Linked DNA regions of Homo sapiens. The protein of the gene in region 6 purifies or fractionates together with the protein of the main gene of each other region. This does not show direct contact. Each region holds a gene or a part of one and is shown on either strand. Other genes may lie near its edges. The genes, in order: AP3S1, NPLOC4, UBAC2, CNNM1, TF, SLC38A6 and MTCH2.

Region 1 (3,500 bases), on a different chromosome or scaffold from region 6:
TATAAGCTTCAACTGTTTCTAGATTTGAGATTTATTCTTCACCCTGTGTTTTCTTCAATTAAAATGGACACAGAATTGAATTGAGTTAAACTGATCCTTTAAAATGCCAACAAGGTAAAATTTTTCAGAACTCACCTGTTGTAAATTAATGCCAGTGTATTTTTAAAACCTTGATGCTTTCAAAGTAATATTTACTTTAAATCAACGAAACATCTGAGCTTAACACTAATAATTATAAAAATAAAGTCTGTTTTTTCCAATCTGAGTTATGACTGCAAATACCAAATGTAAGAGTATCCTCAAACAAGTTGGGTGGTGAATGAGATATCAAAATTATTGATCTTTCTTTTTTTTTTTGAGATGAAGTTTTACTCTGTTGCCCAGGAGTGCAGTGATGTGATCTCGGCTCACTGCAACCTCCACCTCCGGGGTTCAAGTGATTCTTGTGCCTCAGCCTCCCGAGTAGCTGGGATTACAGGTGCGCTCTACGTGCCCAGCTAATTTATTTATTTTTTATTTTTATTTTTTTAGTAGAGATGGGGTTTCACCATGTTGGCCAGGCTAGTCTCGAACTCCTGAACTCAAATGATAAAACTACTGATCTTTCTAAACCTCTGCTAGGGTAATAAACAACCAAAATAATGTGAACCCAGGTGGCTCAGCTACAGCACCTGCTACTGATATTCAGACTAGTGCTTGAGGGAAGAGTCACTACAATTCTGAAGTAGGGTTTTATACAATGCTAAAGTGCTGGCTGTTCCTCATTTATCCCATCTAAGGTTGAATCTAACAGCAGAAAGTTAGCTAAGTATAACAAACCGATCTTATAGAATGCAATAAAGACCATGGATATATATGTACTAATGTCTAAAATATGTGACTTAACTAACTTGTCAGTGAAATCTTAGGGAAAGATTTAGAATTAAAAGATTAAGGTATTGAATTTCTTTTTTGAATGTGAACTCAAACATTCAAAATATTTATTTTGCATTTATTAATAACTTGAAACATTACTTACTTCCCTGTAAGAATTCCATTTCCTGTCCTTTCCCTTTCCAGAAGTAGTTTTGTAACACAAAATTTATATATCTTTAAAATATTAGTTCTAAGATTTCCTTGATAATTACCGACTGAAGTTTTACAAAGCAAATATTAGATTCCATTATTCAGATAATTCTTTTAGGCAATAAGATTTGGAATTGTGCTTATTACCCAAGGCAGCTATGACTGTGGCTAAAAGAAGAATACACAAAGCTGTTGGGTAGAGAACAGTCACAGAACCTTTAGCATACTACGTGTATATTCCATTTTTTAAAAACTGAATAAGCATAACGGCTGAACCTAAAGGGTGATACTGAAGGACAAACAGTGAAAACTACAAATCATGCGTAATCTGTCATCATGCTTAGAACCTTCTTAACTACAGCATTTTCCATTCTTACCTCAGATTTTTCCAGCTTATTTTGTGCATCAATTTGTGTAACAATCTCATTCATATTTGTCTCCAATACCATTCCCCCCATCACCATTTCTGCAAGAATATTGTGAACCTAAAGGGAATAAAAGAATATATACCCATAAAGAAAATTCACTAAAAAGAAGTTTCATGATTCACTTTTTGTTTCAAATACCACTTTGTCTATGTTAAAAGTATGAGTGGTAAAAACAACTTGGAGTAAGGGCTCATAATCCACTTTCATCACTACTGTGAAGCCCTAGGCAGTTATATAACCTCCTTAAGTCTGAGCTTAATGGGCTATAAAACAAAAACAATAGTACTACCTTCATAGGACTGTTGAAAGGAATAAGCAAGGTAATCCAATGCAGTACTCAAAACAAAGTAAATGACTAGTAAATATTAACTACCATTATTATTATTATTATGTGAAGTTTAATACTAAAATATGATTTATAAGAGCCTTTTATGCCAGATTCTTAGCCAACAATAATTAGGTTATTATTTTACACTCATGGTACTTAATGAAGCAATGTAGTACAGTACTTCTAACAGGCTCTAGATTGGAAAAAGGTAGAATTTTTTAAATTGTGGGTACTTTAATAGTGTTTTTACCCCCAAATCCTCTACACATGTAATATTCAGATTTCTTCTAATAAATACATCTTACAATGACTAAAAATGATGTCTTCCATTGGGGAGTAAAAATATAACTTCTGTCTTTTCATAAGGTATTATTGGATCAAAAAATCAACAATTCAGAACTGAATTACATTTCACAGAAGAATCTATTCTGCTATAATTTTTTTAAAATAATGTGGTAAGGTTAGAAATGGAGACTCCAAAATTAGATAAGTATGAATACAGACTCTACCACTTATTACTTGTAGCCCTTGAGCAGTTACTTCAGCTCTCTGAGTCTGTTACCTTATTTACGAAATAGAGACAGAAATAATATAGGCACCTCATAGGATTACCATAACAATTAAATAAATAATTTATGTAAGTGCTTAGCATAGAACCACTAGGTATTATACGGTAATTTTTTTTTCAACAAACTCTTTTTAGGAGTTAAATATGTATTACTCAATTTAAATTTCTTTGTAAGATTTCACGCAAATTTATTCATAATTTAAAAAATATCCCTGGAGGCTGGGTATGGTGGCTCACACCTGTAATCCCAACACTTTGGGAGGACAAGGTGGACAGATCACTGGCAATATGGCAAAACCCTGCCTTTACAAAAAATGCAGACAATTAGCCAGGCATAGTGCCTCACGTCTGTACTTCCAGCTACTCGGGAGGCTGACCCAGGAGGACTGCCTGAGCCCGGGAAGTGGAGGGTGCAGTGAGCTGAAATCACACTACTGCACTCTAGCATGGGCAACAGAGTGAGACCCTGCCTCAATTAAAAAAAAAAAAAAAGTCATCATTATTTACTATTTTTCATTTTGGAAGCATGGACACCTCATGCACAAATTCTGAAGACAAATTTATATAAATTAATCTTCCTAGCCAACCAAACCAAACCAGACATGACAGTGTTTTGAAAACTACCGTAACTTAAAAAAAAAAAAAAAAAAAAAGAATATAGGCAAATGACTAAAAGTTCATACAGAAACTTATGTATGAACAACAATAGTCTCTACCACACTCTGCATCCGTTTTTAGGTCCCTTTATCCAAAGCTACTCAGCTAGCTATATCTTAGGTATCCTAGAAAACTTGCTGTGCACATACTTGTTATACGTGTGTATATGCATATCTAATTTACACAAATGAGAACATATTATATACATTAATTTTCGCAGTTCTGCAAGAAAATAAAGAATTGAAAGTTAGAGGAAGGAAAGAATGAGAAATTAAGTTAGGAAAACCATAAAAGAGACTGGTGCCTGATATACATATGACAGTGATAAATGAAACTGTGTTGGTAAGAGCAAACAAACAAAAATATAAAAATTTAAAACAGTGAATCAACATTAATTATTAGACACATATTTTTATAATGAGATCTCTCACTGATCTCTGTCAGAGAAGCAAGC
Region 2 (3,500 bases), on a different chromosome or scaffold from region 6:
ATTGCCTGAGCTCAGGAGTTTGAGACCAGCCTGGGCAACACGGTGAAACCCCACGTCTACTAAAAAAAAAAAATACAAAAAATTAACCGGGCGTGGTGGCGTGCACCTGTAGTCCCAGCCACTCAGGAGGCTGAGGCAGAAAAGTTAGAACCCGGGAGGCGGAGATTGCAGTGAGCCGAGATCGCACCACTGCACTCCAGCCTGGGTGACAGAGTGAGACTCTTAAAAAAAAAAAAAAAATTAGCTGGGCGCGGTGGCGGGCGCCTATAATCCCAGCTACTTGGGAGGCTTGAGGCAAGAGAATTGCTTGAACTCGGCAGGCAAAGGTTGCAGTGAACCGAGGTCGCGCCATCGCACTCCCACTCTGGGTGACAGAGCAAGACTCTGTCTTGGGGGGAGAAAAGAGTTTCTGTGGATTTAACTGTATCTCACCAGTTCTTCAACTTCCCCAAGAAGCGTTCTAGTCTTATTTTCTTATAAATAGGGAAACTTAAGTTACCAAGAGGCTGTGTGTTCATGTTGTCAGGTCTGTCTCTTCCTGTGTATTTCATTTTGTAGTCTGTGTCAGAGGCTAGGCCAGAACTTTCCATCGTACAAATTATGTTTGTCTCTTGTTAAATACTGGAGTTGGCCTTGGAAACCTGGACTCCCATCTTCTGTGGTAGAGGATCAAGTAGGATGACTTCTTCACCTTAGAATTCTGCAGCCTGAACCATTTAGCTCTGTAAAGAATGGCGGTAACATGCTCTTGTTCCAGAGTCATCGTTTGAAGGAACATTCACATGTTCCCCTTCATTAGAACAGAGCTTTCCTTTTTAAGATAGCTAAGTGTTGGCAGACAGATTTTAGAAACAAATAAGTGGAAGTATTTACCTAATGCTATATATTGTGAAAACGTTTTTCTGGGGTATTGAATCTAGAATGAAGTATACTAGACGTTAGAAGTATAAAGAATTGTATTTCTTTTCTTTTTTTTTTTTTTTTTGAGACGGAGTCTTGCTCTGTCACCCAGGCTGGAGTGCAGTGGCGCGATCTGCTCACCACAAGCTCTGCCTCCTGGGTTCACGCCATTCTCCTACCTCAGCCTCCCAAGTAGCTGGGACTACAGGCGCCCTCCACCACGCCTGGCTAATGTTTTGTATTTTTAGTAGAGATGGGGTTTCACCGTGTTAGCCAGGATGGTCTCAATCTCCTGACTTAAAAGTTGAGAACATATTGGGTGGAGCCTTTTCTGCCAAGTGAAAGTTATGGGAAAATGCAGGACAGGGTTATCCTATTTTAGGAAAATCTAGATTAGGCTTAGTTACTTTACTAAAAGCGGACAAATCCCAGTAGACTGAGCCTTTATGGTGTTTTGTCCTGTATCAGTGGAAATCTTTTTTAGACAATGGCTTGTGACAGTTTTCATCTGCATAATGGTTGAAGAGGATGTTTAATGTAACACTCGTGGTAACCTCACAGAAAATAGTTATAGAATTTATGAAAAAGGAAATAAGGGAGGCCGGGTGTGGTGGTGCACACCTGTAATCCCAGCACTTTGGGAGGCCCAGGTGGGTGGATAACTTGAGGTCAGGAGTTCGAGACCAGCCTGGCCAACGTGGTGAAATCCCATCTCTACTAAAAATACTAAAAATTAGCCAGGCGTGGTGGCAGGCACTTGTAATCCCAGATACTCAGGAGGCTGAGACAGGAGAATCACTTGAACCGGGGAGGCAGAGGTTGCAGTGAGCCGAGATCACGCCATTGCACTCCAGCCTGGGCAACAAGAGCTGAAAAAAAAAAAAGAAATAAAAAAGGAAATAAGGGAATTGAAATGTTTCACTATAAAAAATCAGCTAGGCCAGGGTTGGTGGCTCATGCCTATAATCCCAGCACTTTAGGAGGCTGAGGCAGGTGGATCACCTGAGGTAGGCGTTTAAGACCAGATTGACTAACATGTTGAAACCCCGTCTCTACTAAAAATACAAAAATTAGCTGGGCTTGGTGGTGCACGCCTGTAATCCCAGCTGCTCAGGAGGCTGAGACAGGAGAATCGCCTGAACCTGGGAGGCGGAGGTTGCAGTGAGTGGAGGTTGCAGTGAGCCGAGATTGCGCCACTGCACTCCACCCTGGGCAACGGAAAAAGACTGTCTCAAAAAAAAGAAAATTAGCTGGGTATGGTGGTGGGCGCCTGTGATTCCAGCTACTCAGGAGGCTGAGGCAGGAGAATCACTTGAACTCAAGAGGCAGAGGTTGCAGTGAGCCAAGATTGCGCCATTGTACTCCAGCCTGGGCCACAAGATTGAAACTTCATCTCGGGGAAAAAAAAAATGAGCTAAATACAAGAGATGGTAATGCAGGAAATGAGAGAGAAAGAAGCTATAGAATGCACCATCAGTCTTTGCTGAGAGGAGAAGCTAGGACACTTATGCGCATGTTCCTGTCTGCCTTCCTTCCCGTCCCGCGGATGGTTGGAGCAGGTCTTTGTTTGCTGCAGAGCATGCCATGTCATCCTCCTTGTCTAAAGCAGGGGCCTGTGCTGTTGGCCAGGCATGATAACTCACCTTCACGATGGCTTTCATCAGCATAAACATCAAGTTGTCTTAGAAAGTAATGCCCTTTGTCCAGTAGTCTTCCAGATCTGCCAACCTTTTTAGGCTTGCCGTGGGGGAAAAAAAAAAAAAAAAAAAAAAAAAATATATATATATATATGTACACTTTAATATGCATATATGCACACACACGTTATTAAATTAGGATGGGGTCTCGCTGTGTTGGCCAGGCTGATCTCGAATTCCTAGGCTAAAGAGATCTTCCTGCCTTGGTCTCCTGAAGTGCACAGATTATAGGTGTGAGCCACTGTGCCCAGCTGAAAATATTTTTTCAAAACCCTACTAAATTTTACCATTAAAGACCTTTATTGCTTTTAATTTTAATTTCTTTTTTAAGTTTAAATTTTTACTTTTTTTTTGAGACGAAGTCTTGCTCTTCGTCACGCAATGGCACGATCTTGGCTCACTGCAACCTCTGCCTCCTGGGTTCAAGCGATTCTCCTGCCTCAGCCTCCCGGGTAGCTGGGATTACAGGTGCCCGCCACCACGCCCAGCTAATTTTTGTATTTTTAGTAGAGACGGGGTTTCACCATGTTGGCCAGGCTGGTCTCGAACTCCTGACCTCAGGTGATCTGCCCGCATTGGCCTCCCAAAGTGCTGGGATTACAGGCAGGAGCCACTGTGCCCAGCCTAATCTCTTTTTTTGAGACAGGGTCTCACTTTGTCACCAATGCTGGAGTGCAGTGGCACCATCTTGGCTCACTGTAGCCTCGACCTCCCTGGTTTAAGTGATCCTCGTGCCTCAGCTCCCCAAGTAGCTGAGACCATAGGCGTACGCCACCATGCCTGGCTAACTTGTATTTTTAGTAGAGATGGGGTTTCCCCATGTTGCCCACTGGTCTTGAACTTCTGAGCTCAAGTGATCCACCGCCTTGGCCTCCCAAAGTGCTACAATTACAGACGTGAGCC
Region 3 (3,500 bases), on a different chromosome or scaffold from region 6:
AGGTGCATCAGGTGCTCTGCATCCCCAGCTGGATGGCAAAATTCTTTTCTTGGACACTTGAACCCATCTTCTCTTCTTCAGAACCCACCAGCGAAGCCAGAATTGGGATGGGAGCCACGCTGGACATCCAGAGACAGCAGAGAATGGAGCTGCTGGACCGGCAGCTGATGTTCTCTCAGTTTGCACAAGGGAGGCGACAGAGACAGCAGCAGGTAAAAGTGATAATAATCACTAAAAATTTAGAAATTCTCAGTGGCCCAAGCAAATCTTTCCTCTGTGATTGCATGTGAGATAGAGACTACATTTTATTCCAGTGCCTTGCAAGTGGATTTTGACATTTCCAAAGAGATTGTAGGTCTCTGTTAGTGGCCATTCTTAGTTTTTTAAAAAGGTAAAAAATAAATTGCAGCTGAAAGATTGGTCAAACTGGACATTCTTGTTCCACCTATATTAGATAAGCATGACTTCTTAGAGAAACACCAACCTAGTTAACAAGATGTGCTATTTATCTGTTTTTATAATCTTGTAAAAGCCACAGTGTCTTCCTGTTAAAATGCTAATCATATGCTATGGAGTGAAGAACAAATGTAAAATTTCTTGATTTTCCTTGGTTGAAATGAAGAGAATATGAAGGCAAGAAGATTTTCAGTGGAACAACCAAGGAGTAGATAAAAAAAAATGCTGTGTTTTCTCAACCTTGCTATCAATAATCAGAAATTATTGCACATTTGTCTACAAATTCTGCATCCAAACAATCTGATACTACATTTGTCTTCCATGGGCAGTGAGAGAAGGAGGGTTAGTGCACATCAGGCTAAAACCTCAGGCCTGATCTTTCTTGGACACTTCTGTGAGCCAGCCCACAGGGCTCCCCATTTTTCGCCTCCACCTTCTTTACCCCTGGGGTAGTTGTAAACCGTACAGTTACCTCTGCCATCTCTCTGTCTTCCACTAGCATTGGATGCAAGAAGTAGGTCTGCAGATCTCACGATGGTTTGGAGAAGTGAAATCAGGTTTGAGGTCCTTAGAGTCCCATTGGAGATGCAGGTCCCAGAGTTTATATCAGGGGGGGGGAGGAAGGGGGCAGCTTATTAGGGGCAGAGTCTACAAGAGAAATAGAGAAGCAAAAGTTGTTTCTTAAAGATGTGCTTGAATTTGAGTGACTCTGGAACATGCCATAAAGATGCCCATGGTGTATTTAAAGCTGGAGGATGGACATCTCTGTCTTGGAAATGTGGAAGCTACATATATATATAGGTGATGGAGTCACCTCTGTAGGGATGAGAGCTGAGAGCCGAAAGCAAAGAAGTAGTAAGTTCTGTAAGAGAAGAGCTACATCCAAGATGAACACAGGCTACAGATGAAGCCTCGTATTTAGCAGGAGGTAAATCCTTCAAGGAAACTGAGAGAAGAGCGAAAGGTATGAGAAATCAGAATGATCAAGGTCAGAAAAACTGAGTAGTGATTGAGTATAAAGGTAGAGGCACAGAGCTTATGAGGGAGAGAAAGAAGTAGGGGATGGTTCTGATGTTTCTGGCCTAGATAATCTTAGATAGATGACTGATAGTTCCATTTCACCAATATCAAAAGAGCAGATTTGGGGGAAATATGTTGTCTGAGATACCTTTGGAATCCTGGGAGGAGATTCTCCATTGGAGAGCTTTGAATTTGTCCTCATAAGCAAACCAGAGAAGTTGCATTTCTCAGATTGGCCTCCCCAGGAAGATTTTTATACAAAGAGTTTATGAGAGAACACCGTCAGCATCAGTATCTATGGGGGCGGGCTGGCGAAGGCAGCAAGATGGGACAGAGGGAGCAGCTGCAGTTCCAGCAAAAGCCTCGCTGGTCTTATGGAGCACAGTGAAGCTGGGAGAGCCCTTCTGAGTTGTCCCAAAATGGGGACCAGTCCTGTTGGGTAAGTCCCATGCGTACGACCTCTTTGAACCTTAATTACCTCCTTAAAGTTCCTACCTTTAAATACAGTCACATCGTAGGGTTAGGGCTTCAGCGTGTGAATTTGGGGCAGGGGCAAGGGGTGGGAGACAGTGTGTTCCATAACACTGCAGAGTGGAAAGGGCCCAGCATAGTCTCGGCGCTGAGTGACTGTTCTGCTTGCAGACGGTAGTTATCAGGCACACACAGTCTCTGTGGATGCCAGGTTGGATGCTCCATAGTGGCAGGAGATAGGTCGGCCTAGGTGAGGGGGACCCACACATTCCTCTGTGCTACCACCATGGCCATCCATTCGTGTGCCAGCGCTGGGTTATCTGGTGATGGAGCCACAGTCATTCTGTCCACCTTCCATTTGGTGCCTTTTCTGTGGTGGATGCCCGTGGTGGGCACGACCTGCAAGACACTTGATGCTGTTCCTTTAGCTGGATCCTCCTTGTTCCCTCCCTTCCAGTCCCCTGACCGACCAACCAGGTGATCTGCCATGCCCAGCAGATCCACACGTGTAATTGCCTCAGGCCACTTCTCTTCACACAGAGTTGATGACCAAATGTGCTGCCCAGGCTCTGCCCATAGGGGGTTCCCCTGATCGCTGTCTTTCAAGATTGAGCCATCATGCAGCCGTTTCTTTCAGCTGCCACTCATGTCCTGAGCCAGCCTGTCCATTTGGCTGTTTTCCCCTCTGTCACTTGGTCATGAGGGGCCCACCAGCTGTGGTAGTCGGTGTTAGCTGGGAAGAGGCTGTGGTGCAGCAGAGGTGGCTGCCAGGGTGGTCTGGCATGCCTGCTTCTGCAGCTCACCCATGCCCTGCAGCCCCACCTATGCTGAGCCCAGATGCCCGTGTCCATCTGATGATGGGTTTCTGTCGGCCCACCTGGCTTGGTAACTTGGTGGGTCTCCACTGCTGACCACATGCTCACTTTGTGGCCTACAGACAGGCACTTCATGGTGCAGCAGCAGTTTATGCAAGTGGGATTCTTGGCTGTTTGCGCACGCCCTCGCTCCAGGATTCTACGGACCCCCATTGTGGTTCTCCTTTCCTGCCTTGCTGTAAACTCCGCACGGTGTCTTTCCCCCCAGATACTTGGAACATCACGGGATCTGCCAGGTTGTACCCAGGCCTCAGGGAATGAGACAGACCCAAACCCCTGCCCTGCTGGAGCGTGCATTCCCACCAGGCGCCTGTGAAGTGGCACAGGCCTTTATGGCTGTCTACACTGCTGTCAGACTCCTCCACTTTCATAGGATGGTCTCACTAACAGATCTGAAGTCCAGAGCAGGACACCAGCCCCTGGGCTCTTGCTGGGCTTTTACGTTGAGTGGTCTGCTGGGCAGCACAGACCAGACTCTTGATTTTTTCCTAAGCTTCCTAAGTTCTCTTCTAGGGTCCGCACATGGGTACACCCAAACCTGAGCACTTAGCCTCCTGCTGAACTTCTTCACTCAGCTGTGTCTCAGTTTTCTTCACATAAGTATGATAAATCACCACGTAGAGAACTCTTTTGTTAAACCACCACTGGAAATTATCTGCCGTATTTGTGTGCATGCAC
Region 4 (3,500 bases), on a different chromosome or scaffold from region 6:
ACCTCAGGTGACATCACCCTCCTCAGCCTCCCAAAGTGCTGGGATTACAGGTGTTAGCCACTGCACCCGGCCTCTTTTTGTTTTTAAAAAACAATGATAAGCCCCTCTTGTTACCTGGAATCAAGGATCCAGGAACTCTAACCCTCTTTTTAAGCATTGTCAGGGAGGAAAGGACGGGAAGAAAGTATTTTTGGTAACAATACTGAGTGAATGGGACACACTTCCTCGTGAGGTACCGAGTTCCTCATCATTGGAGGCATTCACACAGATGTTAAGCCACCACTTGTCAGTGATGCTAAAGAGAAGATTCAGACGGCCACACTAGTGGGAAGAAGCACGGCAGTGTATGGCAGTGAGGGTGGGGAGGGGGAGGGGCTGGAGAGGGTCTGCACTGTTGGTGGGTGTTTATATAAAAGGAAAGGTACCACCCAATGGCTAAATCCTCTATGTGACTCACAGCCTTAACAGCCTTGCTTTCTTTCACACAGCTCTCTTTTTAAAAAAAATTTTTTTTTAAATCATGAACTCCTGCCATGTCAATGTGTTGCCTTAAAAGAAATTGTTGACAAGGTGCCAATGTATCCAGGGAAGCAACTCTGCTCTGCCTCTCCCAGAGGCATTTCTAGGTTCGGGTATCACTTCTTGTCAGTTCCTTCCCCTTGTTCAACAACTCATGACAACTTATTTTAATCTAGCGTAATACTGTTGAAGAGAAATGTAACGTGAGTCCCGTCGGTAATTCAAAGTTTTCTAGTAGTCACATTTTAAAAAGTAAAAACAAGTTAATTTTAATAACATATTTCATTTAACCCAATATATCCAAAATAATTTCACATCATCATGTGATTAGTTAAAGTGATTAGTGAGGAATTTTACATTCTTTTTCGCACTGGTCTTGAAATACAATGTGTATTTTGCACTTATAGCACATCAGTTGGAAAGAGACACACTTCATGCATTCAACAGCCACATGTAACTAAATGGCTGTATTTATACATGGCTACTGGCTGCTGTACTGGATGGTGAAGGTTTAGTGGACGGCCTAAACAGCTGTGCCCAGTTTCGATGACCTGGCCTCGCAGGGCCAACAGCACTCCCACTACTCACCAGGACAGAACCACTGGTCCCACCCAGCTTCTCTCTCTACCCAGTCCCTCGAATGCGCCATGTCTACTTGCCTTCCATACCTGTTTAAGGGTGTCCCTTTGCATGGCATTGCCTTAATTCTCCTCTTGTTCTTTCCAAACTCCTAAAGTACATTCTCCAGCCAATTAGTGCTTAAAAAATTCCAGATAGTGGCTCACACCTGTAATCCCAGCACTTTGGGAGGCCGAGGCGGGCGGATCACAAGGTCAGGAGTTCGAGATCAGCCTGACCAACATGGTGAAACCTTGTCTCTACTAAAAATACAAAAATTAGCCAGGCGTGGTGGCGCATGCCTGTAATCCTGACTACTCAGGAGGCTGAGGCAGGAGAATCGCTTGAACTCAGGAGGCGGAGGTTGCAGTGAGTTCACTGAGTTGAACTCAGTGAGGTAGAAGATCACGCCACTGCACTCCAGCCTGGGGGACAGAGTGAGACTCCGTCAAAAAACAAAAAAAAATTCCACATAATTTTGTAATGAATTAGATAGTACCCTGCATTGGTCACTATTATTTAACTTACCTTAAGCTTCCTCTCTCTAACTGGTCTTAATCTACTTATAAGGCAGAGGATATATTTTTATTAGATTTATATTTCTGTAGTATAGCTCATGGCACCCAGAACCATTGTTAATGCTTAACAAATACTTATCAATTAGTTGACTGAGGGAATCAAGCCACTTTTCAACAGACTCCATGTTTTTGTTTCCTCTTCATTGCAGTAGATATAACCATTTATTAGCAACAGCTTTAGTTCAAATTGTCTTCTCTTATAGAGTGGCCAGTTTAGAATCCAATCACCCACTAAGCTACAAAGGAAGCGGAGGTCTGTTTATTCTGAAAGTAGTGAAAAGCAAGGGTGGCTTTCTGGACTTTTTGACTTAGCAGCCAAGGTGTCCAGAAGTTAACCTTTAGGCTAATGTGATGTCTCCTGTCATTTTATTTTAGAGACAGGGTCTCACTCTGCTGTGCAGGCTGGAGTGCAGTGGCATGATCACAGCTCACTGTAACCTTGAACTCCTGGGTTTAAGCAATCTTCCTGCCTCAGCCTCCCAAGTAGCTGGGACTACAAGTGCATGCCACCATGCCTGGCTAATTTAAAAATTTATTTTTATAGAGATGGGGGTCTCACTTTGTTGCCCAGGCTGGTCTCACACTCCTGGCCTCAAGTGATTCTCCTGTCTCAGCCTCCCAAAGTGGTGGGATTACAGGTGTGAGCCACTGCACCTGGCCTCCTATCATGGTATGATGTTGTTTTCACTTTCAAGTGGTTTATTCATCCCTGAAGACACAATGCTGCAATCTAGGGTGATGAGGAATCTTGGTCAAGGTTACGTAGTCCAGACTGTAAGACATCTGCCAAGTAGTCTTAGCTTAATGATGACACAGAACACATTTCAAAAAACTTACTTCATAAGAATTCTTTGGTACCTTCATAACTTATTAACTACCATTAATCATGGCTTTGTTTAACACCTTTCCCAGATAACTATTAGATGCACCTTTCTATCTCATTTTGTAACTTATCTTGAAGTTCAATTACTCCTGGACTTAATTCTGGACCTTCAGTCTGTTGGATATAAAAAGCCCTTGAGAAACCTTCCAGCAGCCAACCACAGGGGCTTCGCCCTGTGAAAACACTCATCTTGCAGTCTTCTCTTTAGCTTCCCCCAAAACCCTCATGTTAAAAAACACAATAACAACAGAAGGAAAGATGGGGAGAGACAGGTGAGGGAAGTAGATAAATGAGTGGCCTAAATAACGTCCCTAACACAGTCTAATCAATCAGGAGGAGGTAATTTTCAAAGTTAATCTAAGGCAGAATCTTATATTAAAAAAAAAAGAAAAGAGAAAATCAAAACAAAAAAGACACTTGTGTTAAAAAAAAGAGCTTGAACTCACAGAATTCCTTTTTGGAGAACTACCCATTTTAATCAAAGTTTTTTTTTTGTTTTTTGGTTTTTTTTTTTGAGACGGAGTTTCGCTCTTGTCGCCCAGGCTGGAGTGCAGTGGCGCCGATCTCGGCTCACCGCAACCTCCGCCTCCTGGGTTCAAGCAATTCTCCTGCCTCAGCCTCCCGAGTAGCTGGGATTACAGGTGCCTGCCACCATGACTGGGTAATTTTTTTATTTTTAGTAGAGATGGGGTTTCGCCATGTTGGCCAGAGTGGTCTTGAACTCCTGACCTCAAGTGATCTGCCTGCCTCAGCCTCCCAAAGTGCTGGGATTACAGGTGTGAGCCACCGCGCCTGGCCTAAAGAGGTTTTTGAATAACACTCTTTTTTTTCCTTTTTTTTTTTTTTTTGAAGACAGAGTCTCACTCTTGCCGCTCAGGTGGAGTGCAATGGCCTCGGCTCAC
Region 5 (3,500 bases), on a different chromosome or scaffold from region 6:
TACATGCCGGGCTTAGATTGTTCACTCACCATTTCATTTTGTCCATGTTGTCCTATCCCAAGGGCCACAGCCTACCCCTCCTGTACCCACCCACCATCCCAGCACTCACCACCATGTTTGGTTGCCACTTCCCCATGCTGTTCCTCCTACTCACATGAGGTGGAGCATTTTCTCAGGTTACCAACAGCCTTGACATATTCTTCTCCTAAGTATTTTTCATATGTGTTTCTGTCATGAAGTTTGGCCAAACATACTGTGTCATCTCTGAACAGAAGGTCCTTGGTTTCCGACCGGAACAAACAAAAGTTGCCCGAGCAGTCAGTTACGTTGCTTCCAAATAGGTGCTGTCAAGTGAACAGAAAGTCCGTGAGGACCTTGTGGTCTTTAGCAGCTGGGAACACATGGATGAGAAGAGTCTGAAAGCTCTGAACCAGCCCTGGGGAAAAAGGGAAGCTACGGAGTATGTCTTGGGAATTTTCCACCTCCTTTATCTGCCATTTATCCACTTAGGGCCCCAGCTGCATGCTTTCATGATGCCCCCAAAATCATCTATAGGGTCCCTGGTCCCACCTTCCTCTGATAAGTCCCTCCCACCCACACCCATGCCTGCCTACTCTGACCTCTCTTCCCCACTTCATTGCCCTTCACTGGGGGCTGCTTATAGGAAATGAGAGGACAATAACATGTCCCTTCAGATGTTATTGTCAAAGAAGATGTTAAATGTGAACCCTCCCAGAGGAGTGGCAGAGGTAGTTCTTAAAAGTTCATGTTTGACTGCATTTTGAATCCTTTCTTGGGCAAGCCACTCAGCTTCTCCAGATCTCCAAAGGTTGTAAGTGAAATGATGACTGCAAAATGTTGAACTTTCCATATAGCAGCTAGGAAATGTATGTTAAATGCTTATTATTGTCATGTACCTTAAAAGGACTTCAAATATACTCTTATTTTTTTTAAAAAAAGGTAATGGTGAATCAACAGCAGGCAGCTATGCCCAAAAGGAAGGTGATGTGTGTGTGTGGAGGGGCCTTTAGGATTAGAATACTCAGGCAGCCCCTGTCTTCAACAAGGCTGGCCCTGAGTGGTTGTTCCCCCAGAGGGCAGGCTCTCCGAGGGCAAGGGTCCTGTGTTTTTCAGACTGTTGAGAACAGTGCTCAGTCTGCCTAGGCAAGAGGAACAGAAATCCACTCTTCATGACTCGTATCAACAAGCGCTGGGAAACAGGAGCTGTCTTCTTCATTTTCGGGAAGGACAGGAGTAGGGGAAATGAGGGTACCCCTGAACAAGGTTAGGGGGAGCAGAAAGGCAGATTCCTAGTCCCAAGAGTACATGGATCAGATCTAATCACCAGTGACCAGGAGCTAGAAGCAGAGCTGGGCCTGAGAGGTCTAGTTCCATAATTACACAGCTAACATATTTTGAGCACGTCCTATAGGAAATGGAATTTTCCTATGCCGTTTGGGTGCATGTCTTCACTTAATACTCATGTTAACTGAGAAGTAGGTAAAAATATTATTATTACAATTTTATATATGAGGAAGCTGAGGCATAGAGAGGTTATGTAACATACCCAAGATGGCACAACTAGGAAGCTGTGGAGCTGTGATTTGAACCCTGATACTCTAGTCCACAATGCATGGCATGAAATGCACAATGCATGGAATTCTAGTTTTCAAAAAGAAAGTGCTGGAGTCATGGCTGCACTTTGTTGTAAACTCCCCCCGAATAGCCTATGGCCATCTAGGAAGAAAAGGTGGGAGGACCTGGCTGGTCCATACCTGCTGTTGACGTAATATCTTGTGGACGCAAGCTTCCTTATCTTTCCGTGTGACCACAGCGTGATTCGGGGCTCTGGCCAGGTGGCAGTTCGCATACTCCTCCACAGGTTTCCTGGTACCATCAAGGCACAGCAACTCATAGTCTTTTTCATTCAGATTCTTAGCCCATGGATCAGGGTTTTTTCCTAGGGACAGGAAGAAGGTGGTTCAGCTGATGGCTTTGGTCAAGGTGCCCCGCTGGGGAGATGGAACTGACTCAGTGGTGTGTAGAGAACCTGGGCCTTCTCGCCAGCAGAAGTGCCCACACTGGGGTTACAGTGATGTGGACAGGAAGAGACACCCATGTGGTCTACAAGGTGATGCCAGACTCACAGTGACCAGGAATGATTATTGACCATCCCCTTCCAACCTTCCCTACCCAGCCAGGTGAGAATGAACTACATTCTGCAGATGCTGTTCAAAAAGATCTTCAATTCCACTAAATTCCAATTCCTTCTGTACCTCTTGCTCCAACAGAGGAAGAATGTGACGCTCTAAGCCAGGTTGATCAATTTCTGTGCTGTAACACATGGCATCTCCAAACAAAAGAACTTTTCCTCAGAGAACACCTTTGGAATCTGCACCAGAATTTTAAATCTGACTCCCTTGTTCCAGTTCTAAATGAGAATGTGCACACACCTGTGTGATACAGGTCTGTATCCCATCTCGGCCCCTTTGCCTCTTCTTTTCTGTATTGTCTCTGAAAAAAAAAAAAAACTCACCCATTCTTAGGGTTTCAGCTCCTTCCTCCTGAGCCACTTTGCAAATATGTTTTGCTAATTTTTATTTCTCTCCCATAATTCAGAATTGCAACCTTTTTAAAAATGTATTTTTCATTTAATTTTGTTTCTTTAACCGAATAACTAATACATGAGATCACACTCATAAATTTTTGAATATCTCTCTATATTAACTAAAAGCCTCCTTTCCTATACTCTCCAAATCTCACTCAGTCTTATAGTGCTAGTCTTTAATATCACATTTGCGAGTTTCCATCCACGGCTCATTATATGTATTTTTCTACGTGTGTATATGGATTTCACATGTTTCTAATTTTGTTTAGTGTTAGATCTTGACAAATGTAAAACTCTGTAGCTTTTTTTTCAACTGTTTACATACCTTATAGATTCTTCTTGTCAGTACATACAAATCAAGCTCGTTCTTCTTAACTACTGTATTATATTTCATAGTGTGGCTATAATAGTATCTTTAAACCATTCCTCTTTTAATAGGCATCTGAGGTGTTTACAATTTTTTGCCACTAAAGTAGCGTTAAAATGAGTGTTACTGGCATATAATTGTGCTTACATAGAAGTGGAATAGTTAGTTCAAAGGGTATATGTATTTTTATTTTATTTTATGTTATTTTATTCATTTATCTATGATACTATGTTCTCAGCCCTCTCCAAGGCACAATCTTATTGGAGGGGAAAATAACACACATACCAAAACAAAAAATTCAGGGCAGGGATAATAATATTTTATATTTTGTAAAACACTCTAGATGCTGTGTGAGCTCAAACCAGGGCTTTGAGAACAAATGAATTAAGAAGCTGGCTGGAGGAGGCAAGATTTCAGTTGTCTCTTATAGTGTGTGTAGGATGAGAGGAGGAGAAAGGAATGCCTCTCTGCGGGAGGAAAGGAGAGTGCAGGCGAGACTGGGGGCAGGTGTGTGCCTGGTGTTTC
Region 6 (2,943 bases):
GCTGGCTGAGAAATTGTTAGATGAATCACCATTAGGTGCTTAGAAACTGTATTAAATTGTAGCTGTATTAGATTGAAAGGGATGTGGAGGAAGGATGGAAGCTAATACATTTATTGAGCTAACATTTAAGACAGTGTCAGGTATTTTATATATACTCCCTAACTTAATCCTTATAACAATTCTGCAAGCTCAGTGTAGGTTCATTTAGGTTGAGTAATTAGACCAGATACTTGAAGCCAGTTAATAGTGGAATTGGGATTTGAATCTAGTTTTGTCTCTCTCCAAAGCCAATGCCTTTATTACTGTGTTGTCTACTCAGAAATTGTGCTATAGAAGCCAGATTTCCTTTATTCCAAGTTTTTGTTAAGGTGATCTTTTAGAAAAATATGACTCACTTAAGCTCTAGGCATCTATCTATGTATGTATCTATGTATAATCTATCTATCTAACATTGCTGCTTGAACACAAAGGCTAAAGGTTTTCATCATGTAGATGGCATGTTTCCTAGACAGGGATTTGTCTAATATCAAGTAAAACCATTATGTTGTCTCTGATTTAATCTCTTCTCCACTAATGCAAATTCTTCAGAGTATGCAAATTTTATATAATAGAGAAATACACATCTAAGAAAATCACATGGTAGGTAGGTATATGATTGATTAATAGGTAGGTGGGTAGGCAGATAGATGGGTGGATGAATAGATGATAGATTAGATAGATAGATAGATAGATACATACATACATACATACATACATACATACATACATACATACATACATACATAAATAGAATAAATGATACAAAAGTAGTAAGTTCTTCTCCAAAGACAGAAGAGGCAGATATTGATTTGCTCTTGGATTGTGAATCATAACCAAGAAAAACCTTTGATCATATCTTTCTACCAGGATAACAGGAGCTTTGTGTCATAGGAAGAAATTGCTGGTTGAACCTGAGATCTTATAAGGGCTAGCCTCAACTTAAGGCTTCCAATTCATTTTACAGATGAACAACTAAAGCCCAGAGAGGTGAAGTGACCTGTCACAGAATTAAAGGCAGGTTTCCTGAATACTAATCCAGTGTTATTTCTGCTACTTTGTGATAATCTTTGTAAACTTAATACCCTGTTTGACAATGTGTATTAAACAGGACAGCCTCCTGACTTCAATGGCATATATAACTTGCAGAGATCACCATTAGGCCCTTTCTGAGATTTGTAGAGATTTGTCTGAATCCAGGGAAGCATGCACCACTCTATCCCTCACATATGTTATGGCTCAGTTAAGAACACAGAGTGACTGGCTCAGAAGAAGTGTTTTCATCCTGGGAAAGTAGAAAGTGGACATGTGACATCTATTTTGAATTTGTAATAAATCTAGTTCTTCAAGATTCAGGAGCTGCTTTGGATCCTTTTATCCAGAGCTCCTAAAGTTTAATTTCTAAATTTGTCAGATTAAAGGGACTTATAGGTATGTACCTAGATTAATGATACTTGCTCTGATTACAGCTGTGAAAGGAAGAGAAAAGGGTTCCTCTGGTGAGCCAGGCCAGTGCCCAAATGTTGCATAATAACCAGGCCATTTAAAAAGTCTATGAGGTTGTTAAGCAAGAAGTGTTAATAGCTCATTTTATGATTCAGAAAATGGAAATAAAATAGTTTGCCATATTTCTCCAAAGACTCACAAGTATCTCACAGATTTGGAAATAGAATCCAGATTTCCTGGCTCTTCTTAGTCTCCTACTTAGTCCAAATCCCACATTGTGTAAAGTATGTTTTTGATACTTTGGACAATTCATTTCTCTCCTGTTTCCATTATCACTAGTCTAGTTCAGATTCTCTTTACCTCTCAGTGATTGTAACAGTAGCTGTTATGCCTGTTTGGGGTCTCTTTTTCTTCCAATCCGTACTCCTGCTTTAGTTCAGATCATAATACACTGTTCTTTGTAAGTCATTATTGCATTTCTGTGGCCTACCAGGTTGAGGCCACATCTCATGCAGAACTGTATTACTAGGTCTGAAATGCATTTCCAGCCCTATCACCCACACACTGTTTCATCCACTGTAGTACTTACTAGACCACTTATTTTCTCAGATGCACATTCCCTTTGCTTTGTTTGTGCTGCTCCTTGCTTCTAGAGAATCTCTTCCCCCACATCTTTGAACATCAGCACACATTCATTGACTCATGTAATGTTCTCAGTAACCCTATAGTTTAGTATATGGCCATCCCCATTTTAAAGATGTAGGAACTGAGAGACTCAGTGTAAGTTGCTAGTTACTGGTGGGGTTTGAACATGTTCTATGTCATCACAGTTTAGAATCTCCATAGCTCTTGTTTAGAACTCTCTGGCCACTTACATGTGTATATCACACTTTCTATCATAGCTATGTGTATTCATCTCATCTCTTCTTAAAGTTCCCTGAGAACAGAGGTATGTTTCCTTTTGTTTTTGGTTTCCCTCAAAGTATCCTTTCTGAAACACTCTCAAATTAAAAGGCACCATTCTATTTTAAGTACAAACTGATATTTTCCCACAAAACACTGATATCCAGTGTTTCTGAGCACCCTCAGTCTTCTTTCCCCTTGTCTGGGTTGAGGTTAGGGAGACATTGTGAGAATGCAAGAACACTGGAGCAAAGCTTGGTCGGCATGTATAAATCCTATTGCTGACCACCACACACTGGCCTACTAAGTAAGACATTTCCCTAACACTTCTCTTTTTTTCATAAAACATGAATCCACAGATGAAACGTAACATGCACCAAGCTCTGAGATTCTAGAAAACGTTGTGGTATTGAGGAAAAGATGCTGTCTCTAGCACCAAAAAGAAGTAGGTGTATGGCACTGCCCCTTTGTGTTATGTGATCTTAGGCAAATCATTTAACACTTTTGGACCTACCTGCGTATTAATATTGTTATCATGGGGACTAAATTCAACAACAC
Region 7 (3,500 bases), on a different chromosome or scaffold from region 6:
CAATAAAAATAAGAACCAAAAAATGTGATCAGTAACATGACAGGCTCTTCAGTACAAATGTTTGTCAAATAATTAGAGGTCACAAAACATTCTAGGGAAGTAAAAAAGGAATCAAACACCAGAATCCAGCCCGCATACCTAGTTCATTCTCGTTAACACAGCTGTACTTGAAGCTGATCTCCAGTGACTTTTGTTCCTATGTTTAAAATGCAGGTCGGCTATACCCTCAGTGGCTCACCTTACTATTCATAACTGTAAGCAGGGAGGCAAAAGATTTGCGAGGTGCTTTGCAGAAGAGACTTAAATATTGTTTTGCTTTGACTAGCTTAAAAAAATGATTTTGCTAAGCTATCTGATATTCATATTTGGCAGAGCAAAAGACGAGAAAAATTACAAAGCAAGAATGGTCCCAAGTACAGATACAGATGAGAGGCATCAAAAACCACATTTCTAGGGTCTGGGTGACCTAGGTGAGGCAGCATGGAATAGTGGGAAGAGCATTTCCCCACGGATTGAAGACCAGCTTCAAATGCCAGCTCCAGCACTCAGCAGCGATGTGACAGGCAGCAGATGAAACTCTCAGAGCATCAATGTTTTTTAATCTCTAAAGTGATACTAATTATAGCTGTCCTGCCTATCTCACAGGGTATTTATGATATTCAAAATCCGTATGGGGAGATACTCTGAAAATTAAAAAAAAAAAAACAAAAAACACCATTTCGGTAATGATGCAAAATTTTTCCTCATAGAAGAATGAGGGTAGTAGTCTAAGTTCTTCCAAAGTAAATTCAAGCCTTGCAAAAACTTACTCTTTTACGGTAAGGAAAATACAAGTTAAGATGATTTCCCCATTTTTCAACATTTAATTTTTCTCATTTTATTATCTATATAGAATTGGGAGTTTACTACAAGGGTAGAAACTTGGAATTAAGTCCTTTGTTAAAAAAAGAAATTCCTTATTTATTTATTAATTATTATTATTTTTTTGAGACGGAGTCTCACTCTGTCACCCGGGCTGGAGTACAGTGGTGCAATCTCAGCTCACTGCAACTTCCACCTCCCGGGTTCATGCAATTCTCCTGCCTCAGCCTCCCGAGTAGCTGGGATTACAGGCACACACCACCACACCTAGAGGTGGGGTTTTACCATGTTGGCCAGGCTGGTCTTGAACTCCTGACCTCAGGTGATCCAACCGCCTTGGCCTCTCAAAGTGCTGGGATTACAGGCGTGAGCCACCACGCCCGGCCTCAAATGTTTTAAGTATCTAGAAGTAAAGGTTTGGGATCTTTACAAGATAATTCTAGTCATATGGGGCCTAAATATGCCTTTCTGCAGAGAAAAAAGAAAAAAAAATAAGGGGCCTAAATAGAATGTAACGTGAGGTAAGCCCAGGGAGTACGTTTTCCCCAAGGATTAAACAAAGACTCACTATTCTTACTTTCAGAAAACGTTTCCCACTCATGCAAAAATTACACACTAATCAACATTTACTCACGCGAAAAATCCTAGAATGCCCTCTTCCCGATAGATGGTTATTATGGAATCACAAAGTCCACTACGTACACAAGAAGAAAAGGTAAAATATATTAAGATTCTTTTGGAGCTATAAACAAAATAATTTCAATTATCACATTGGACAAGGTCAAATCCACGACCTCCTTCCCTCACACTTTTCTAGCACTCTCTCACTCTGCAAAGATAGCTAAATTTGGAGATAGAAGTGAAAATATTAACTACCTAGGGGTATAGTCATATGGAGTCAGGGGCTCTGCAACTTACTCTGAAATCCTACGTAGGCTACTAAACCTGCCTGGGTATATTTTCTCCCATTTTATTGTTTTTTGTGCAGATCAAATGACATCAGATACGAATTTGTTCTACAAATTGTAAGGGTATCATAAAAATACAAAGTAGTATTATTCTAGTACTTTGGCTTCAAAAGATCTCCTTGAGTATGTGAAAACAAAAATACTTACCAGTACTTGGATTCTCTGCCAATGAACTGTACCATAGATCTCAGAGTGATCACTGTGGAATATAGAGAAAAGATGTTTACAACTATGTTAAGGCCAGGTGCGGTGGCTCACACCTGTAATCCCAGCACTTTGAGAGGCCGAGGTGGGCGGATCACCTGAGGTCAGGAGTTCAAGACTAGCCTGACCAATATGATGAAGCCCCATCTCTACTAAAAATACAAAAATTATCCAGGCGTGGTGGCATGCACCTGTAATCCCAGCTCCTTAGGAGGCTGAGACAGGAGTACTGCTTGAACCCGGAAGGCTGAGGTTGCAGTGAGCCAAGATTGTGCCATTGCACTCCAGCCTGGGCAACAAGAGTGAAACTCCGTCTCAAAAACAAAAAACAAACAAACAAAAAAAAACTATGTTAAGATAGATTTTGATAGCCCTGGGAAAAAAAAAGATTTTCCACCTAAAGACATTTTGCTATCTGGATAAATTGGATAAAAGCCAAAACAAGCAAGCAAACAAAAACATGCAGGCAAGGCATTTTAGTCAACTCCCACGTCAACCTATCTAAGTGGTCAGGAGAGATCAGGTTATAAAAGAAAGGTCAGTTGTCAACTGCAAACATACCATGGAAGGGATGTGTGATGAGGGTAGCAGCAGAACGAGCGATCATCTCTCGAGTTGTCTAGAAACAATCAACACACACTTCTGAAATCTAAACAAATGACACTCAAATGCCTGTGAGAAGGAATGTGGGTGGATATCGTGGTATAGGATAAGAAAGTGAATGACACAGCCCTCCTGCCCTGGCTGGAGTCAAGAAGAGTTTGAATGGGATGTGAAAGATCTCATTCATTGTCATTTTATCATACTTTTCACTCATGGATCTCAATGTTCTATTATAGTTACTTCTCAAAATTTCTCTGCAAAGCAGGCTTCTGTTGTTTTCTCAATTTTACAGGTAAGAGAAAAAAATAAAGAAACAGGAAAGGTCACCAACAAAGTCATTAAGCTGAAATAAAAAATATGAGGCCTTTATTGAGATTATTAAGTTGCTCTCTTATTGGTAAGTGATTTTGGAGAGTCTGACATCATTCTAGATAAATGACAGGCTCCATTTAGTCTCTACTCACATTTTTGGGAGAAGAGAACAATTTTGTTTTGTGACTACAACCCAGTAACTGTGCAGTATCTTAGAGCTGCTGTGTTTTTCCTAGTTTATCTTTCTACTCTAGGGCTCTGTAAGGAAGTAATAAAGAAAATTAAATTATAATCTTTGCATTTAGGTTCTGGGATTGCAAATGTAAGCAGGTCTACCATTGGCTTTTGCATTTTTTTTTTTTTTTTAGGACAGTCTTGCTCTGTCACCCACGCTGGAGTGCAGTGGCGCGAACTCGGTTCACTGCAAGCTCCGCCTCCCGGGTTCACGCCATTCTCCTGCCTCAGCCTCCCAAGTAGCTGGGACTACAGGCACCCGCCATCATGCCCGGCTAATTTTTTTTCTTTGTATTTTTTAGTAGAGACGGTTTCACC

The links.
Region 1: the proteins of SLC38A6 (region 6) and AP3S1 purify together in Homo sapiens (affinity purification with mass spectrometry; one large-scale study listed by BioGRID and IntAct). This does not show direct contact.
Region 2: the proteins of SLC38A6 (region 6) and NPLOC4 purify together in Homo sapiens (affinity purification with mass spectrometry; 2 studies listed by BioGRID and IntAct, with this or other methods). This does not show direct contact.
Region 3: the proteins of SLC38A6 (region 6) and UBAC2 purify together in Homo sapiens (affinity purification with mass spectrometry; one large-scale study listed by BioGRID and IntAct). This does not show direct contact.
Region 4: the proteins of SLC38A6 (region 6) and CNNM1 purify together in Homo sapiens (affinity purification with mass spectrometry; one large-scale study listed by BioGRID and IntAct). This does not show direct contact.
Region 5: the proteins of SLC38A6 (region 6) and TF purify together in Homo sapiens (affinity purification with mass spectrometry; 3 studies listed by BioGRID and IntAct, with this or other methods). This does not show direct contact.
Region 7: the proteins of SLC38A6 (region 6) and MTCH2 purify together in Homo sapiens (affinity purification with mass spectrometry, with the first as the bait; one large-scale study listed by BioGRID). This does not show direct contact.

What each region holds. Positions count from the first base shown.
Region 1 is NC_000005.10:115,900,935-115,904,434, reverse strand, and holds part of AP3S1 (AP-3 complex subunit sigma-1), read right to left. Parts: intron 1,551-3,500; coding exon 1,443-1,550; intron 1-1,442. UniProt on the Homo sapiens protein: Part of the AP-3 complex, an adaptor-related complex which is not clathrin-associated. The complex is associated with the Golgi region as well as more peripheral structures.
Region 2 is NC_000017.11:81,630,613-81,634,112, reverse strand, and holds part of NPLOC4 (nuclear protein localization protein 4 homolog), read left to right. Parts: intron 1-3,500. UniProt on the Homo sapiens protein: The ternary complex containing UFD1, VCP and NPLOC4 binds ubiquitinated proteins and is necessary for the export of misfolded proteins from the ER to the cytoplasm, where they are degraded by the proteasome.
Region 3 is NC_000013.11:99,340,354-99,343,853, forward strand, and holds part of UBAC2 (ubiquitin-associated domain-containing protein 2 isoform 1 precursor), read left to right. Parts: coding exon 1-212; intron 213-3,500. UniProt on the Homo sapiens protein: Restricts trafficking of FAF2 from the endoplasmic reticulum to lipid droplets.
Region 4 is NC_000010.11:99,381,356-99,384,855, reverse strand, and holds part of CNNM1 (metal transporter CNNM1), read right to left. Parts: intron 1-3,500. UniProt on the Homo sapiens protein: Probable metal transporter.
Region 5 is NC_000003.12:133,773,893-133,777,392, reverse strand, and holds part of TF (serotransferrin isoform 1 precursor), read right to left. Parts: intron 1,961-3,500; coding exon 1,776-1,960; intron 345-1,775; coding exon 155-344; intron 1-154. UniProt on the Homo sapiens protein: Transferrins are iron binding transport proteins which can bind two Fe(3+) ions in association with the binding of an anion, usually bicarbonate.
Region 6 is NC_000014.9:61,047,245-61,050,187, forward strand, and holds part of SLC38A6 (solute carrier family 38 member 6), read left to right. Parts: intron 1-906; coding exon of another isoform or gene 907-911; exon of another isoform or gene 912-1,003; coding exon of another isoform or gene 1,004-1,035; exon of another isoform or gene 1,036-1,053; intron 1,054-2,071; exon of another isoform or gene 2,072-2,159; intron 2,160-2,744; coding exon of another isoform or gene 2,745-2,755; exon of another isoform or gene 2,756-2,943. UniProt on the Homo sapiens protein: Amino acid transporter with an apparent selectivity for L-glutamine and L-glutamate. May facilitate glutamine uptake in excitatory neurons. The transport mechanism remains to be elucidated.
Region 7 is NC_000011.10:47,629,060-47,632,559, forward strand, and holds part of MTCH2 (mitochondrial carrier homolog 2), read right to left. Parts: intron 2,653-3,500; coding exon 2,595-2,652; intron 2,029-2,594; coding exon 1,977-2,028; intron 1,556-1,976; coding exon 1,496-1,555; intron 1-1,495. UniProt on the Homo sapiens protein: Protein insertase that mediates insertion of transmembrane proteins into the mitochondrial outer membrane. Catalyzes insertion of proteins with alpha-helical transmembrane regions, such as signal-anchored, tail-anchored and multi-pass membrane proteins.